2 separate regions of the Homo sapiens genome follow, and region 1 is linked to region 2. Evidence: fine-mapped expression QTL. Tissue or cell type: whole blood. Region 2 holds a variant in brackets; the other region holds the start of a gene. All regions are shown on one strand. Distances are between the middles of the regions.

The links. PIP is the estimated chance that this variant, and not a neighbour inherited with it, causes the effect.
Region 1: NOD1 starts here. The variant in region 2 is fine-mapped to the expression of NOD1 in whole blood (TOPMed, PIP 0.95).

Annotation. Positions count from the first base shown.
Region 1 is chr7:30,475,718-30,483,820 of GRCh38, forward strand. It overlaps NOD1 (nucleotide binding oligomerization domain containing 1), which reads right to left and starts at 3,067. Exons shown (of 14, transcript NM_006092.4): 1 at 2,889-3,067. RefSeq lists an enhancer at 2,563-3,307 and a silencer at 2,956-3,195.
Region 2 is chr7:30,648,065-30,656,167 of GRCh38, forward strand. CRHR2 (corticotropin releasing hormone receptor 2) reads right to left here. Exons shown (of 12, transcript NM_001883.5): 9 at 7,863-7,948; 10 at 7,516-7,651; 11 at 6,975-7,016; 12 at 3,878-5,536. The coding sequence ends at 5,396. It overlaps LOC124901609 (a long non-coding RNA gene), which reads left to right. Exons shown (of 2, transcript XR_007060276.1): 2 at 6,254-8,103. Among named protein-coding and RNA genes, the nearest start is that of CRHR2, 30 kb to the right of the region's middle. RefSeq lists enhancers at 4,827-5,816, 6,665-7,864. The variant A/G (reference allele first, on the strand shown) is at 3,230.

The DNA.
Region 1 (8,103 bases), 170 kb before region 2:
AGTTTGGACTGTGGCAGTTCCAGATAAAACACATGTTTAAATAAGAGTTCAAGCCAGGAAGTCTTGCCTGAATGAACTTTCTAGCGTGGGTAAAAAATGTCAGCTAACTGACATGCCAGTGACTACTCACCTCTCACCACAAGAGTCAAGTTTAGAAACAACACTTGCCCTCAACGAGTATTTGATGCGCTAAAGAGTTTTTCCAGAAACCAGGTCAGACCTTTTGGATAAATCAAAGGAGGCCCCTTGTGTGACATGCAACTGACTGTCCCTAGAAGATAAAAGAAAATGGGACTTCTGAAAACTTGCAAAATACCTAGAGCCTCTGCATGACAAAAATTCAGCATAAGTACACATTTTAGCTTTTCTAATTTCTTCTTGCCTAAAAAAAATCCCCCCAATAATAAGAATGATAGAAGAAACTAGTAACTTAAACCTTAAATCCTACGTTCATATCTTAGATTTTGAACAAATATTGAATCCTTTTCTTTGAATAAGAGATAAGACTTTGATAGTCTTGTGTAAGCAAATATCAGTGATCACACATACACTAGAAAAACACTTGATCTTTATGCCTATATTACTTACTGTTTCTATTTCTGATGTCTAATCTAAACAGCACTGCTGTTAGGATCAAAGTGACCATCCATGATGCACAGAGCACGTACCAGGGTAAAGTTCCAGCTGGGACGCAGGCATCAGCAATTGTAGAATTTGGGTTCTCCCTTCCTCAGATCCCTGACTGTCCTTGGTCATTCAAGAAAGATTCACTGTCCCTAGGCCAAGAGTCAGGAGCAAAACAGGAACACCAAGGGTATGGTCTGAGGATGTTGTCAGCAGGGAGCAACGTGCGTGTGTGTGCACATACACTAATTCTGAGACACTGTGCACAGCCCAGCTTTCTTGGAAAGCCATTTAAAAGATATATATGTGGCAACAGAGAGGAGGAAGTCTCAAGATTAAGAACAGCTTTTGAGTGTGTGTGTGTCAAAATATTCATTCCTATCACATGCAGTAAAACTGTATTCCAGAGCCATTAATACGCCCTGGGGGACTGAGGGGATTTGCAGCCTAAGATTTCAGACTTAAAGCCCGCTAAGGCCCTGAGCGGGGCAGCAGGGCAGGAGAAGGAATGGAGCGTTGAAGGGAACATTTTATAGACATTCTCCCTCATAGTGGCTGTACTAAGTAAACAATTAACGGGCACAAACTGCCACTCCAGTGTCTAATAACTACCTCTGCCAGAGCACCTGCCAGCGCCACCACCTTCCAGGTGTGTGATGCACATCATCTCGCTGAACTATGCTAGCCTCAGGAGAGGGTTGCTCTTTATTTTACAGGTGGGAAAACAGGGGCTTGGAGAGGTCAAGGAACTTGCCCAAAGTCACAGCATAGAAGTGACAGAATCCGAGTTTTGACCCAGATTTGATGGGTTCCAAAGCGTGAACTTATTTCTCCACTCCACAAAAATAAAACCTACTCTTCTTACAATATTTGAAAGAGCCCTCTTCTACCACTCTGCTGTTTGTTTTAAACACAGCTTGCTTATCTGTCTGGCATATTCGGTAGAAGTCTGTACTTTGTCAATGCCTGGTTTGCCTGGATTTCAGCTACCTGGCCCCTGGCATCTAAGCCTGGGTGAGAACAGGGAATCCACTCCTCTCTAAGATGCATCGTGGAGTTACTCTTTTACTCTTCCCTGAAAGTGATAGTTCAATCTTCAACAGGGGCTTTGAGGGAGAACAAACTCGACCCTTTGGCAAGCACGACTTCTGGCTTCACCGTTTTTTTGTTTTTTGTTTGTTTGTTTGTTTTTGACGGAGTTTTGCTCTTGTTGCCCAGGCTGGAGCGCAACAGGGCGATCTCGGCTCACTGCAACCTCTGCCTCCCGGGTTCAAGCAATTCTCCTGCTTCAGCCTCCCGAGTAGCTGGGATTACAGGCATGCGCCACCACGCCCGGTTAATTTTTTTTTTTTTTTTTTTTAGTAGAGACGGTTTCACCATGTTGGGCCAGGCTGGTCTCGAACTCTCGACCTCAGGTGATCCGCCTGCCTTGGCCTCCCAAAGTGCTGGGATTACAGGCGTGAGCCACCGCGCCCGGCCCTGGCTTCACCCTTAAAGCAGAAAGGCCAGAAGTCATCAAGGCCATGGGTTTACTAGCTTAGCTTCCCCAGACTTAATTTCAAACACCAACAACCGAAATGTTTCCTAGAATGCAGAGCTAATGAGACATCAACCTCTGTCATTTCCTATGTTTTTCACAATGTGCCAAAACAACTGCACACATTGGAGGCGTTTTTGAATGTGATATTCAGGCGACCTTGCCAAGCATTGTCTCATTTCCTTACTTTGTGGAGCATGAAACCCAAGGGAAGTTCTCACCCTCTCTCCAGGACCAAGCAGGACACTGGGAGCTGCTGTCCCGTCTGCAGGCGGGACTCCATGAAGGCCCCTGTCTGCCCTTCCAGCCTTTGCCACAAACCCTCGAACGCTGGCTGCACACTGGAATCACTTGGGGAGCTTTTAAAAGATACGGAGGCCTGGGTCTGACTCCGTGAGATTCTGATGGAATTGATCTAGGGTGCAGCCTGGATATCTGGATTTTAAAAGCTCCCCAGGTGGTTCTAAGCTGCTGGCACGATTGAGAACCCCTGCGTTCGACCACAGTGGGATAAACGATTCCGCTGACTGTGAAGTTCATCCCTCTCAACTTTCGCTACATGCTTCAAACTCGCGGGTTTCTCCGCTTGGTTCCACCCAGAGCTCCTCCAGAGCCGCGCTGCGTTCCGCCCGCACGCAAATCCCGCCTCCCTGCGCCTCCTCACTCGCAGCGCCCAGGACCTCAGAAAGGGCCTGCCCCGCGCGAATCCCCAGTCGCTGGGACTTACTTGGCCACCAGGTTTACAGACTTCGCAGCCGCTGAGAGCTAGAGAAGAGCCCGGAGAGCGCCATGGTCCGGGGACGCCGGGGCCGGGAAGCGCCGTGGCCCGGGAGGACGCTGCTCCCGCAGTAGCGCGAGGGAGGGGCAGGACCGGGGCGGCTGCCTCGCGGGCCCGGAACGGGAACTGGCTGCGACTACAGCCGCAGCCGCGCCCCTCTGTTGGCGCGCCCAAGAGCCTGCCGGCTGCTGGGAGAGGCCGCCGAAGGGCGGGGGCGGTCAAGGCAGGGTCCCACGGTGCTGCCATTCGCCCGGGTCTGGCGCGGGGGGGCGAGAGAAGCTGCGCGCAGAGGGACGCCCGGTGCGAGAGGGTGAGCCCCTGGCCACCGCGCAGGGCCGAGTGGACAGGCCCAAGTTCGCCCAGAGGTGACACACTTGGGAATTTGTGGTGCCATCGTGCCAGGTCCCTCCTCGTAAAAGTGCCTACCCAGCGCCTGCAACCAGAGCCAAAGCCTGGACATGATAGGGAAACTCTTGTTAAAACGCGACACGTGGTCCTGATGAAATGGAGGTTAACGTAATCAAATTTAAATTACACTGCATACATTTCAATTTATACTTTTTAAAAAATGTAAGCTTTTCTTCCTATCCTTAAATTTGTTCTTGGCAGTGTACATTTTATGTTCTATGCATATGCTCTAATAGGTTGTAAAAGAGTTTTAACATGCTAATAAATGTCCCCAATAAAATAGTTTTAAAACGTTTTGAATGGGGATCGTGTCCATAAGGGATATCATGCTACAGAAAGTTGTCACTTACTCACACTGAAGAAGTACATTCAATCATATAGCCACTGATGCTTGTGAGTATTAAAATTCCCATCAGAGGCTGCCCTCTGAGAAACAGAAAGTATGTTCTTAAATCAAAAGTGAAAGTGCAAACTAAAGTTGATAGGATCAAATGTGCCAACTTGTGTCAGGCCTCTGAGCCCAAGCCTGCATGTATACATCCAGATGGCCTGAAGCAACTGAGGAATCACAAAGGTAGTGAAAATGGCTGGTTCCTGCCTTAACTGATGACATTACCTTGTGAAATTCCTTCTCCTGGCTCAGAAGCTCCCCCACTGAGCACTTTGTAGACCTTCCACCCCCCCGGCCCCCGCCTTGCCCACCAGAGAACAACCCCCTTTGACTGTAATTTTCCACTACCCACACAAATCCTATAAAGCTACCACACCCCTAACTCCCTTTGCTGACTCTTTTTTTCGTACTCGGCCCACCTGCACCCAGGTGAAATAAACAGCTTTATTGCTCACGCAAAGCCTTTTGGTGGTCTCTTCACACGGACACGTGTGACATTTGGTGCCGAAGACCCGGGACAGGAGGACTCCTTCAGGAGACCAGTCCCCTGTCCTCACCCTCACTCTGTGAGGAGATCCACCTATGACCTCGGGTCCTCAGACCAAACAGCCCAAGGAACATCTCACCAATTTCAAATCGGGTAAGCGGTCTTTTCACTGTCTTCTCCAGCCTCTCTCACTACCCTTAAATCTCCCTCTATTTCCAATTCCAGTTCTTTCTCCTCTCTAGTAGAGACAAAGGAGACATATTTTATCCATGGACCCAAAACTCCAGCTCCGGTCACGGACTCAGGAAAACAGTCGTCCCTTGGTGTTTAATCACTGCAGGGACACCTGCCTGATTATTCACGTACATTTCATTGGTGTCTGATCACCGTGGGGATGCCTGCCTTGGTCATTCACCCACATTCCCTTGGTGGCAAGTCAATTGTGGGTCGCCTGCTTTGGCTGCTCAGCCACATTGCAGCCCAGGGCTGCTCACCACCCCCCTTCTCCGGGTCTCTACCTTCTTTTCTCTGGGCTTGCCTCCTTCACTATGGGCAACCTTCCACCCTCCATTCCCCCTTCTTCTCCCTTAGCCTGTGTTCTCAAGAACTTAAAACCTCTTCAACTCACACCTGACCTAAAACCTAAACGCCTTATTTTCTTCTGCAATACCGTTTGACCCCAATACAGACTCAACAATGGTTCCAAATAGCCAGAAAACGGCACTTTCAATTTCTCCATCCTACATGAGCTAGATAATTATTGTCGTAAAATGGGCAAATAGTCTGAGGTGCCTGATGTCCAGGCATTCTTTTACACATTGGTCCCTTCCTAATCTCTGCTCCCAATGTGACTCATCCCAAATCTTCTTTCTCTCCTGTCTGTTCCTTCAGTCTCCACCCCAAGCTCTGAGTCCTGTGAATCCTCCTTTTCTATGGACCCATCTAACCTCTCCCCTCCTCCCCAGGCTGCTCCTCGCCAGGCTGAGCCAGGTCCCAATTCTTCCTCTGCCTCCACTCCCCCACCCTATAATCCTTCTATCACCTCACCTCCTCACACCCGGTCCAGCTTACAGTTTCGTTCCGCAACTAGCCCTCCCCTACCTACCCAACAATTTCCTCAAGGTTAATGCTCCTTTTTCTTTATCCAACCTCTCCCAAATCAATTAGCATTTAGGCTTTTTTTCATCAAATATGAAAACATAGCCCAGTCCATGGCTCTTTTGGCAACAACCCTTAGACACTTTACAGCCCTAGACTCTGAAAGGTCAGAAGGCTGTCTTAGTATGCATTTTAGTACCCAATCCACTCCCGACGTTACATAAAGCTCCAAAAATTAGAATTCGGCCCTCAAACCCCACAAAAGGAATTAATCAACCTCACCTTCAAGGTGTACAATAATAGAAAGGAGGCAGCCAGACAGCAATGCATTTCTGAGTTACAATTACTTGCCTCTGCTGTAAGACAAAACCCAGCCGCACCTCCAGCACACAAGAACATCAGAATGCCTAAGCCGCAGTGGTCAAGCATTCCTACAGGACCTCCTCCATCAGGATCTTGCTTCAAGTGCCAGAAATCTGGCCACTGGGCCAAGGAATGTGTGCAGCCCGGGATTCCTCCCAAGCCATGTCCCATCTGTGCAGGACCCCACTGGAAATCAGACTGTCCAACTCGCCCAGCAGCCACTGCTAGAGCCCCTGGAACTCTGTCTGGCCCAAGGCTCTCTGACTGACTCCTTTACAGATCTTCTCGGACTGACGCTGCCCGATCGCCTCAGAAGCCTCCTGGACCATCACAGATGCTTTGGGTAACTCTTACAGTGGAGGGTAAGTCCATCCCCTTCTTAATTAATACGGAGGCTACCCACTCCACATTACCTTCTTTACAAAGGCCTGTTTCCTTTGCCTCCATAAATGTTGTGGGTATTGATGGCCAGGCTTCTAAACCTCTTAAAACTTCCCAATTCTGGTGCCAACTTGGACAACATTCTTTTATGCACTCCTTTTTAGTTATCCCCACCTGCCCAGTTCCCTTATTAGGTCGAGAAATTTTAACTAAATTATCTGCTTCCCTGACTATTCCTAGGCTACAGCCACACCTCAATGCTGCCCTTTTTCCCAGTTCAAAGCCTCCTTTGCATCCTCCTTTTGTATCCCCCCACCTTAATCCACAAGTGTAGGACACCTCTACTCCCTCCTTGGCAACCGATCACGCAACCCGTACCATCCCATTAAAACCTAATCACCCTTACCCCGCTCAACGCCAATATCCCATCCCACAGCACGCTTTAAAAGGATTAAAGCCTGTTATCACTCACCTGTTAACAGCATGGCCTTTTAAATCCTATAAACTCTCCTTACAATTCCCCCATTTTACCTGTCCAAAAACCGGACAAGCCTTACAGGTTAGTTCAGGATCTGCGCCTTATCAACCAAATTGTCTTGCCTATCCACCCTGTGGTGCCAAACCCATATACTCTCCTATCCTCAATACCTCCCTCCACAACCCCTCCATAGCCCATTATTCTGTTCTGGATCTCAAACATGCTTTCTTTACTATTCCTTTGCACCCTTCATCCCAGCCTCTCTTTGCTCTCACTTAGACTGATCCTGACATCCATCAGCCTCAGCAACTTACTTGGGCTGTACTGCCACAAGGCTTCATGGACAGCCCCCATTGCTTCAGTCAAGCCCAAATTTCTTCCTCATCCATTACCTGTCTTGGCATAATTCTTCATGAAAAAACACATGCTCTCTCTGCTGATCCTGACTGGCTAATCTCCCAAACCCCAGCCACTTCTACAAAACAACAACTCCTTTCCTTCCTAGGCATGGGTAGGTACTTCCGCCTTTGGATACCTAGTTTTACCATCCTGACTAAACCATTATATAAACTCACAAAAGCAAACCTAGCTGACCCCATTAATCCTAAATCCTTTCCCCACTCCTCTTTCCGTTCCTTAAAAAACAGCCCTAAAAGCTGCTCCCACACTAGCTCTCCGTAACTCATCCCAACCCTTTTTTCATTACACACAGCCGAAGTGCAGGGCTGTGCAGTCAGAATTCTTACACAAGAGCTGGGATTGTGCCCTGTAGCCTTTCTGTCCAAATAACTTAACCCTACTGTTTTAGCTAGCCCCCATTATTCCTGATACCACACCTGACCCCCATGACTGTATCTCTCTAAATCCACCTGGCATTCACTCCATTTCCCCATATTTCTTTCTTTCCTGTTCCTCACCTTGATCGCACTTGGTTTATTGTTGGCAGTTCCACCAGGCCTAATTGCCATTCACCAGCAAAGGCAGGCTATGCTATAGTAGTATCTTCCACATCTATCCTTGAGGCTACCACTCTGCCCCGCTCCCCTACCTCTCAGCAAGCCAAACTCATTGCCTTAACTTGAGCCCTCACTCTTGCAAAAGGACTACACGTCAATATTTATACTGTCTCTAAATATGCCTCCCATATCCTGCACCACCATGCTGTTATATAGGCAGAAAAAGGTTCCCTCACTACGCAAAGGTCCTCCATCATTAATGCCTCTTTAATAAAAACTCTTCTCAAGACCACTTTACTTCCAAAGGAAGCTGGAGTCATTCACTGCAAGGGCCATCAAAAGGCATCAGATCCCATCACTCAGGGCAATGCTTATGCTGATAAGGTAGCTAAAGAAGCAGCTAGAGTTCCAACTTCTGTCCCTCATGGCCAGTTTTTATCCTTCTCTTCGGTCACTCCCACCTACTGTCCCACTGAAACTTCCACTTATCAATCTCTTCCCACATAAGGCAAATGGTTCTAGGACCAAGGAAAATATCTCTTTCCAGCCTCACAGGCCCATTCTATTCTGTCATCATTTCATAACCTCTTCCATGTAGGTTA
Region 2 (8,103 bases):
AGAAACAGCACATGCCCCCTGGAATGACCAGCCCAGCAGTGGAGTCTGTGGAGACTGCTGAAGGAGCCCCTAGAGGGGACATTTCTGACTAATGCATAGGTTTTGCCGGGTGATGGTTCTGTGACGAGGGAGGCCTGCTGCAGCGCTGTATGGGAGGGCCCCGAGGCCTAAACAAACAAATACCTAAGAGGAAAATCTGGCAGAAACTCAGTCAACACAGGGCAGTGATGCCCTCTGCCCATTCCTCCTGCTAATTAACATGTCTAAGTGGCACAGCCCCCTCAGGAAAATTAACGGCACCTTCGAGGCAGAGCCTGGAAGCCATCCTGGGCATATTGATGAGTAGATTCACATGTTTTCTTTCTTTTTTTTTTTTTGAGACTGAACCTCACCCTGTCACCTAGGCTGGAGTGCAGTGGTGTGATCTCAGCTCACTGCAACCTCTGCTTCCCGGGTTCAAGCGATTCTCTTGCCTTAGCCTCCCAAATACCTGAGATTATAGACACGTGCCACCATACCTGGCTAATTTTTGTATTTTTAGTAGATATGGGGTGGTTTCACCATGTTGACCAGGCTGGTCTCGAACTCCTGACCTCAGGTGATCTGCCCACCATGGCCTCCCAAAGTGCTGGGATTACAGGCATGAGCCACCACTCCTGGCGTCGCTGTTGCTTTCTACAGCACGTGTGTGTGTTGGAAAGAAGAGACAAGGGATGTGTCTTTTTTTGCTGGCCCACACCCCAGCTGTCAGAATCACCCGGGGGCCTGTGAAGCGTGTGGATTCCTAGACCCCACCAAGTATGACTTCTGAAGCCTGCTGTGCAACATGCCACCCGGTTGCTTCCAGGTGTGCTCTCAGAACAGGGGGCCGGGCTCCCTGGCTGAAGGGGTCCCCCTGCTTCAAGCCCCTCCTATGCTCTCGGCCACCCCAGCCACTTGTTCCACCTGAGGCACAGCTGTTTACCACCAAACCCTCCCCGACCCTGGCTGAAATGTCACTCTAGGGAAGAACTCCCATTGGGCCTCCCAGCCCTAGGCCTGCCTCCATGACCCATGACGTGTGCAGGGGATACTTTGTTCTCCTGAGCGTGCCATTTTCTAGTCCCTTCACCTGTCCCTCATAGGACAGCTCCCTTCCCGTCCAGCTGCATCAGCACACGTCCCCCACCTGCCCAGGGCTTCTGAAGATGCTGGGGAAAGCACAAGCGGCACAGTTGGGCCTCTTTCCCTATTCTGTTTTTGGGGCATCTGGAGATCCGGGCCTGCATGGGGGTGAAGGGGAAAGAAGTGGGGAGGGCAGCTGAGGTCCTTGTGCCTAGAAGCCAGCTGGCTTGGGGCCACTGTGGGCATGGACTAGGAGATGGACAGGGCAGGGGGCTGGGGGCAGGCGCAGGCTGCAGGAGCCGATGTGTCTTTTGCCTGCCTTTTCCTTGTGCTGTTCTCAACCAGATTATGAGTTTCTTGAAACAGGAAACTTGTCTTTCTGTTACTTCCATATCTGGCACACCCTGGTGTTCTGTGAATGGGAAATGATGGAGGAAGGTGCGTGCGCCTCCCTCTCTGGGTCTGTGCGTGTGTTCCTACAAGTCTTTCTGTGTCCCTGCCCTTGTGTCATTTCCATCTGGGCCTCCCTCTCTGTGGCCGCGGGAATGTCGGCCTCCATCTCTAGGGAAGTCTATATGCTGAAGGGACTTTCTGCGAGTGCCATCCCTCACAGGTCTTGAGGCTTCAGGCCCTCAGGTAGCACCTCCACCATGGGCACTCCCAGCAGGGGACTGGGAGAGAAATGCCGTCCCTGCCATTCACCTCCTGCCCCACAGATGTTCCACCACTCGCCACTCCTGCCGCCGTGTGTCATTTACCAGCTTGTACCCCAGCAGGTACTTTCTAGCCGCACTTTGATGATGACCCAGGGACTTGGAGCTGTGCTGGGGTCAGGGCTCTGCCTGTTACTCTCTCTTGGAGTGGGGCCAAGAGGCTGGTGTGAGGACCTGTGGCTGGTTCAGGTCTTCCCCAGTTGTGTAAATCAGGGTGGGTGAAAGGGTTAAACAGGGACCCTAAGGGCCTCCAGGATCTGGGTGCTGGAACTTGCCTGCTACGGAGAAGGAGAGTCTGCTAATGAGGCCACTTTCCAGGAAGGCCAGCTCCACGAGGTGCTGCCAGCGCCGAAGCAGATGCTAATGAGGACTGGCTTGGCTTAAGGAACAGGTGCCTAACGAGCTTAACAAGTAGGGACCCAGAGAGATGGCCTAATGGCTCTGGTGGCATTTTAAGGATAGAGCTCAGTGGGAGCCACAACCAGGAGACGGAGTAATGAGGGATTCAGGGCTGGGGTTGGATCAAGGAGGAGCCTCCTCTGAACTGGAGAGAGAGCATATCGAAGTGCCTGCTGAACAAAGGTTAGCAACTTTGATGCTCTTCCTGGTGTTGGCCTTGGCAGGCCTGGCCTCCCAGCAGGGATCACAGGCCCTTGGTCCCTCCAGGGAGCAAAGGACAGTTGGCGTAATGAGCCGGGGGCTGCATTAAGAAGCAGTGATGAATGCCTGGGACTTGGTGCCAGGCTCTGCAGCGTCTGCTCCGATAAGCACTTGTTCACAGCCTCATCTGGCCACAGAAATCTCCAAGTGGCCTCTTGGGGGCCAAACCATTTGCGGCTCCTTGTTCTACAAGAGCCCTGATGATGCTAATGGATGCGGCCATCATGCTGCCACTGGGTATGCAGTAAGACTTTCTAAGATACCCTGAGTTCTGAGTTCTGTCACTTGAGAAAATAAAATCAGGGTGCCCCAACCTCCCTGCCCTCTTGACAAGAGAAGCAGGGCTCACACTTAACCTGCAGTGCATTCCCACACAGCTGGTGGTGAAAAATGGAATGAGCTGATGACATGGGCGCCCAAAGCCTACTGCAAGTCAGATAACGTTCAGTTCATCTTTTTCAGCCAAATTGAAAGGACACTTAATTAAACAGCCAGCTGATAGGTCATTTTTGGTGACAGATCACTATGCAGTTTTGACTGTACATCTCAGCAAGAGTATAGAGAATTGACTATCTGGAGTGCCAGATCATCTACTGAATTGAAAAGGCTTCTCAGCACACCCCACTATAAACAATAAAACATTAAAAAAGAAAAGAATTGATGCTGAGTCCTGATTTATTCTAGCAATAAATATTCACCTGTAGATTCATGAGCCATTAACTTCCTATCCATTTCATTAAGCTGTGTTTTCA[A/G]TACATTTTCCTTTTTAGGTTTAACTAGTTACTTATAAAAACTTTAGGTATCTATGTTGTTTTAATCAGTGGCTTACTGTATTTTGTATCAAAAAATAATTGTAATAATTCAACCCAGAAGATTATTTTAAAATCCCTTGAAACTTTGGTCATAGAAAATGAAATATTTTAATTTTCATTCATACATATATTGTGTGGCAGAGAAGTATGACAAAGTGAGCAATAAAACACTTTCAGCCATAAAAGTAATGCATTAGTATAAAATTCTATAGGGCAATGGAATGAAGCTACACATTAAAGAGGAAAGAAACAATGTAACATTTCCCACAATTAAAGCGGAGCTGGCCAGCCTGAGCAACATGACCAGACCCTGTCTCTACAAAAAAATACAAAAATTAGCCCAGCATGGTGGTGCGTGCCTGTAGTCCCAGCTATTCGGGAGGCTGGGTTGGGAAGATCACCTGAGCCTGGGAAGTGGAGGTTGCAGTGAACTGAGATCTTGCCACTGCACCCTAGCCTGGATGACAGAGTGAGACCCTGTCTCAAAAAAAAAAAAAAAAAAAAGAAGAAGAAGGAGAGCTGGGTCAGGTGTTTTTAAAATAGATGAGGGTGGGTGTTAAATCACCATGGTGATCAGAATTCATTTGATGTATTTTAAATTGTTGCAGCAGTTTTATTTAAAAATGTAAATATTTACAAAATGGCAGAAATCACACCTTTGAAGGATTTAAAACTTAAGTAAAAAATACTACATGTCAACTTAAAAATGTGCAAGACGGGATACATGATTTTTCAAAACTTATTTTTGTAGGGGGTACCTAGAGCATTGGTTTCTTTTGGAAGAAATGGCCTGATGCTTCTCTCTCCCTGACTCCTGCGGCTCCGCTGCAGGGACACAGGGACGGAAGCCAAGCCTGGAAGCTGCCCTGGTGGTCAACTGAGGGGCCATGTCTACCCTGCCCACCAGATTCCAGAGCCTTGGCCTTTGGGACAGGCCCTGGCTTGCTGGATGAGCTGCACACCTCCTCCAGGCTGAATCAAGCTGCCCTTGGTTGGGGGCTGGGGCCAGGTATTAGCCTGGTTGGAGTGATAAGGGACAGACCCGCCTGCAGGTGCTTTGACCATAAAGACTCCAAACCTACCAGAGGTCAGAGAGAGAGAGAACTGGCCCGAGGCCAGGGCCCGAGCCCACTAAGGAAGATGGATGTGGCCCCCTCAGACCCAGCCACGATCCTTGGCCCACACCACTCTTCGGGTGCCTGGGTGACTTGACCTGAGGGGAGGCCACTTCCAAGAGGCATGGTTTATTTCACAGAGAGCAGAGATGTTTCTGAAGGGGAGACTGGAGGGCAAAGGGCAATGGGGTATGAGTTTCAATCACTGAAGACATGGTTGGTTTCTGCTATTCCCATCCCACGCCTCCCTCCTCCATGCCTCTGCTCCTCATTTTGCCCCGCACGATGCAACTGGTTGACTAAGGATGTGGCTTCCCTGATGGCGTCTTCCTTGATTGCCTAATCTGTGGACTAGGCAGAGAAGGGGTCTCCCAAGAGAGGAAGCCAGGCCTGGAAGCCTGCATCCTTCATGGAGCCCCCAAGGCGGGAGGATGGCTGGGGAGGGGACACAGGAACAAGGGTGGGGTACAAGTGAGCCTCTCTAGGTGACAGCCCCTGGGATAAGGCAGCCAAACTGATCCTTTGCTGGCGTACCCCACCCAACTGCAGGGGCACCACTGAGTGTGGAGGCCAAGGGCCAGTGCAGGGCCACACCATTGCCTGGCTGCTGGCTCCATGAGTAGGGCAGGGGAGCCCTGTGTCTGCTACTATAAATAGCTGTGTGTGTTGGACAGGTCCTTCTCTGCTCTGGGCCCAGTAAGGCCCTGGCCAGAGAGGCTGGGATGGGCAAATGCCTGCAGACATCTGACTGGCTCTTCTCAGGGGGTCCTGTGAATTCCCTCTGCTTCCTCTTGCGCTGAGCCTGGTGGCCCCCACTCATCCCTGTCCCTTGCAGTCCCCCTTGGCTGCCGCACCCCCTCTTTCCTGCCAGGCTGGAGAGCTGGTCTCTCCCCTCCCATCTCCTGCCCCACGAGAGCCTGCCCAGCACAGAGAACCCAGAGGAAGAAGGTGGAGGAGGACAGGGGAGCTGTGCAGGTGGGCGACCGAGGGGTCACACAGCGGCCGTCTGCTTGATGCTGTGGAAGCTGATCCGTGTGGGTGATGTAGGGATGGACATGGCCCGGGCCATGGGGACTCGAAGGGAGTGATGGTCCTGCCAGCGGTGCCACCTCTTCCTCACGGCTGAGCGCACCTGTGGGGAAGGCAGAGGCTCAGCTGGCTCCCAGGGACCAACCCTGGGCTTCTGGGACCATCCCCTCCTCTGCTTTCTGCTCTCATGGGTCGACTGCCACCCTCATGACAAGGAACTGTCTGCTTCCAAAACAGGTCCTTCCCTGATGCTGTTGCCTCTCTCCAGGGGCCTCTTCCTTATCCTTTTCCTGGAGAAGCTTGACTCCACACCTCCTTTACTCCACACTGTCCTCCCAGATCATCCAGTTTCCTCTGGACACACTGCCTTCCCTTCCCTGACTCACTCTGCCACCTCAAAATTAGCATCTTGGGACCAGAGAGCGCAGCTTGGAGACTTGGCCCCCTCAGCCTTCTTGGGCCCCTGCTCCTTGCAGGGCGTTGGTGGTGTGCGCCCAGCTCACACACCTGGTGCGCCTCCTCCTCCCTCCTGAAGACCGTCCCCTCTGCACCCCTCCACCTTCTCTACCTCCTGCTAGACTCCCCTGCCTGACTAACCATGGCATTTACTGCCTGAAAGGGAAAGCTCTCTGTCTTGGTCATTTCTAAAGTTGGCTCTACCCGGTGCCATTTAAGCTTCATTTGTTTGGTAATTGAATTTTTTTGGAAATTGGATGGTGTCTCTCACATCCTAGCTTGCACATGGTTCGAACAGAATAAATGCTCCATAAACATCCCTTGTTTGTTTGCCTTACTGGCCCCCTCTCTTCTTCTCATCCAGCCCACAGGACCCGTCTCTGCTGATGGACTTTGCAAGTGGAATGTGCTATCATCCACAGAGACACAGGCCTGCATAGACACCTCGCCAGTGCCCTGTGCAGAGACAGGCAAGTGTATTCCTCTGGAGTGTTCGGAAGCTCCCAGGCCCTAGGGGCTGTGTCTGCTCTTTGCTCCATGTCCTCATCCACCCCAGCCCAGGTACGAGTGCGCTTCTTCCCTGCGTCAGCTGCACTGGGGCTTTGGGCCTCATGATTGGCTTGCACATGCCAAGCTTCACGGCCGCCTGACTCCCCAGAGCCTGCTCTTGGTGTGTGGGCTTTTCTGTGGCAGGTAGCGGGGGAATGTGCTGGTCTCTCTTCTGCTCCCTGAGTCCATACAGACCTGATTGCTTGGCACACATCTCTTTCTGGAAGCTTCCTTCTGTCACCACCTCTGCTCTGGCTTCTCTCTTCCATGAGGCCCTGCGGCCTGGGCTTCCTTGCTCACCCAGCTCTGAGTGCACATGTGGGGTGCTGGCATGTTATTTCGGGGCTGCATAGTTGACCTTCTAAACTGGCTCCAGCCCCTGTGAGAAGGATTCCTGTTCCCCTAAGGCCGGGTGGTATCTCAAGGCTTCCTCTCCCTGGCACTCCAGCAAGGCCGGGCAGCACCAATGGAGCTGCCCTGGAGTGGGGTCTGAGGACCTGGATATCCCAGGCCACCCCGAGGGCCCAGCTTCATACCTCTCCATTGAAGAAGCAGTAGAAGACAGACACGAAGAAACCCTGGAAAGGAGGGAAAGGAGGGAGTGGTCAGTGACCTACCTGCGGAGCTGTTCTGCCTGGTGGGGTGGCACTGGGGACAAGATGGTGGGGGGGGGACAATTTGACCCAGGAACCCCTGGAGTCAGAGCTGGGTGGGGTCCTAGCCTCAGGGTGCAGATATTCCACGGTCCACTCTGAGTGAGCAGTGGTCACAGGCCTGGAGCCAGGCAGACTCCGGTCTCCTCAATATTGTGTGACCTGTCCCAGGGCATTTGGTTGGGCTGCCTGCATCCTCAGAACAGGTGCTGGGACAGTAGGTGCGGGCTGGTAGGATGAAGACCCAGGCTGGGATGGGGATAACTGGCCAGGCTCAGGCTGAGCATGTACGGGCTTCTAACTCTGTGGATGTAACTGAGCCATGGGTGTGCCAGTCCCACGGGACCCCCTTAGTGAGGGCATGGCTGCCAGAGCAGCCTCAGGAAAGCTCACTGTGGGGCCCCCATCTGGTCACAGGCCCCACCTGGAACGACTGCAGGAAGGAGTTGAAATAGATGAACATGATCTGTGACAGGTCGTCCTCCCCGGGATTGACGAAGAAGAGCATGTAGGTGATGCCCAGGAGGGGCAGGAGCACCAGGGTGGCCTTCACTGCCTTCCTGGGGGCGAGAGGTGGACACAGGTCTGAGCCCATGCGGCAGGCAGGGCCTCACCCAGTGGGCGGCGGGAGACAGTGGTGGTGTTTCTTCCGGGAGCTTGAGCGAGCTCCCTGGGTGAGGCCTGGGGCAGAGGGCTCTGCCAGGAAGCAGGGGGACGGCCCGATGACCTCCTCCTGTCCCCATTGTGGGGTCAAGGGACCCCCTCACATACCTGTACTGGATTGTCTCGGATGTGGTGGACGCGCGTAACTTTGTCATTAGGATCCTGACGATGTTGAACAGAAATACGAAATTGATCTGGAGGGAGGGCGGGCATGGGAAAGAGGGAAAAGGAAGGAGCACGTGTTTGAGATGAGCCGAGAGGCAGCCCCCTTCCCCGCAGACCCCTGGAAACCGATGTCCCACGCACACACCTATCCTACCTGTCCCCCTAGCACCTGCCAGCATCCCAA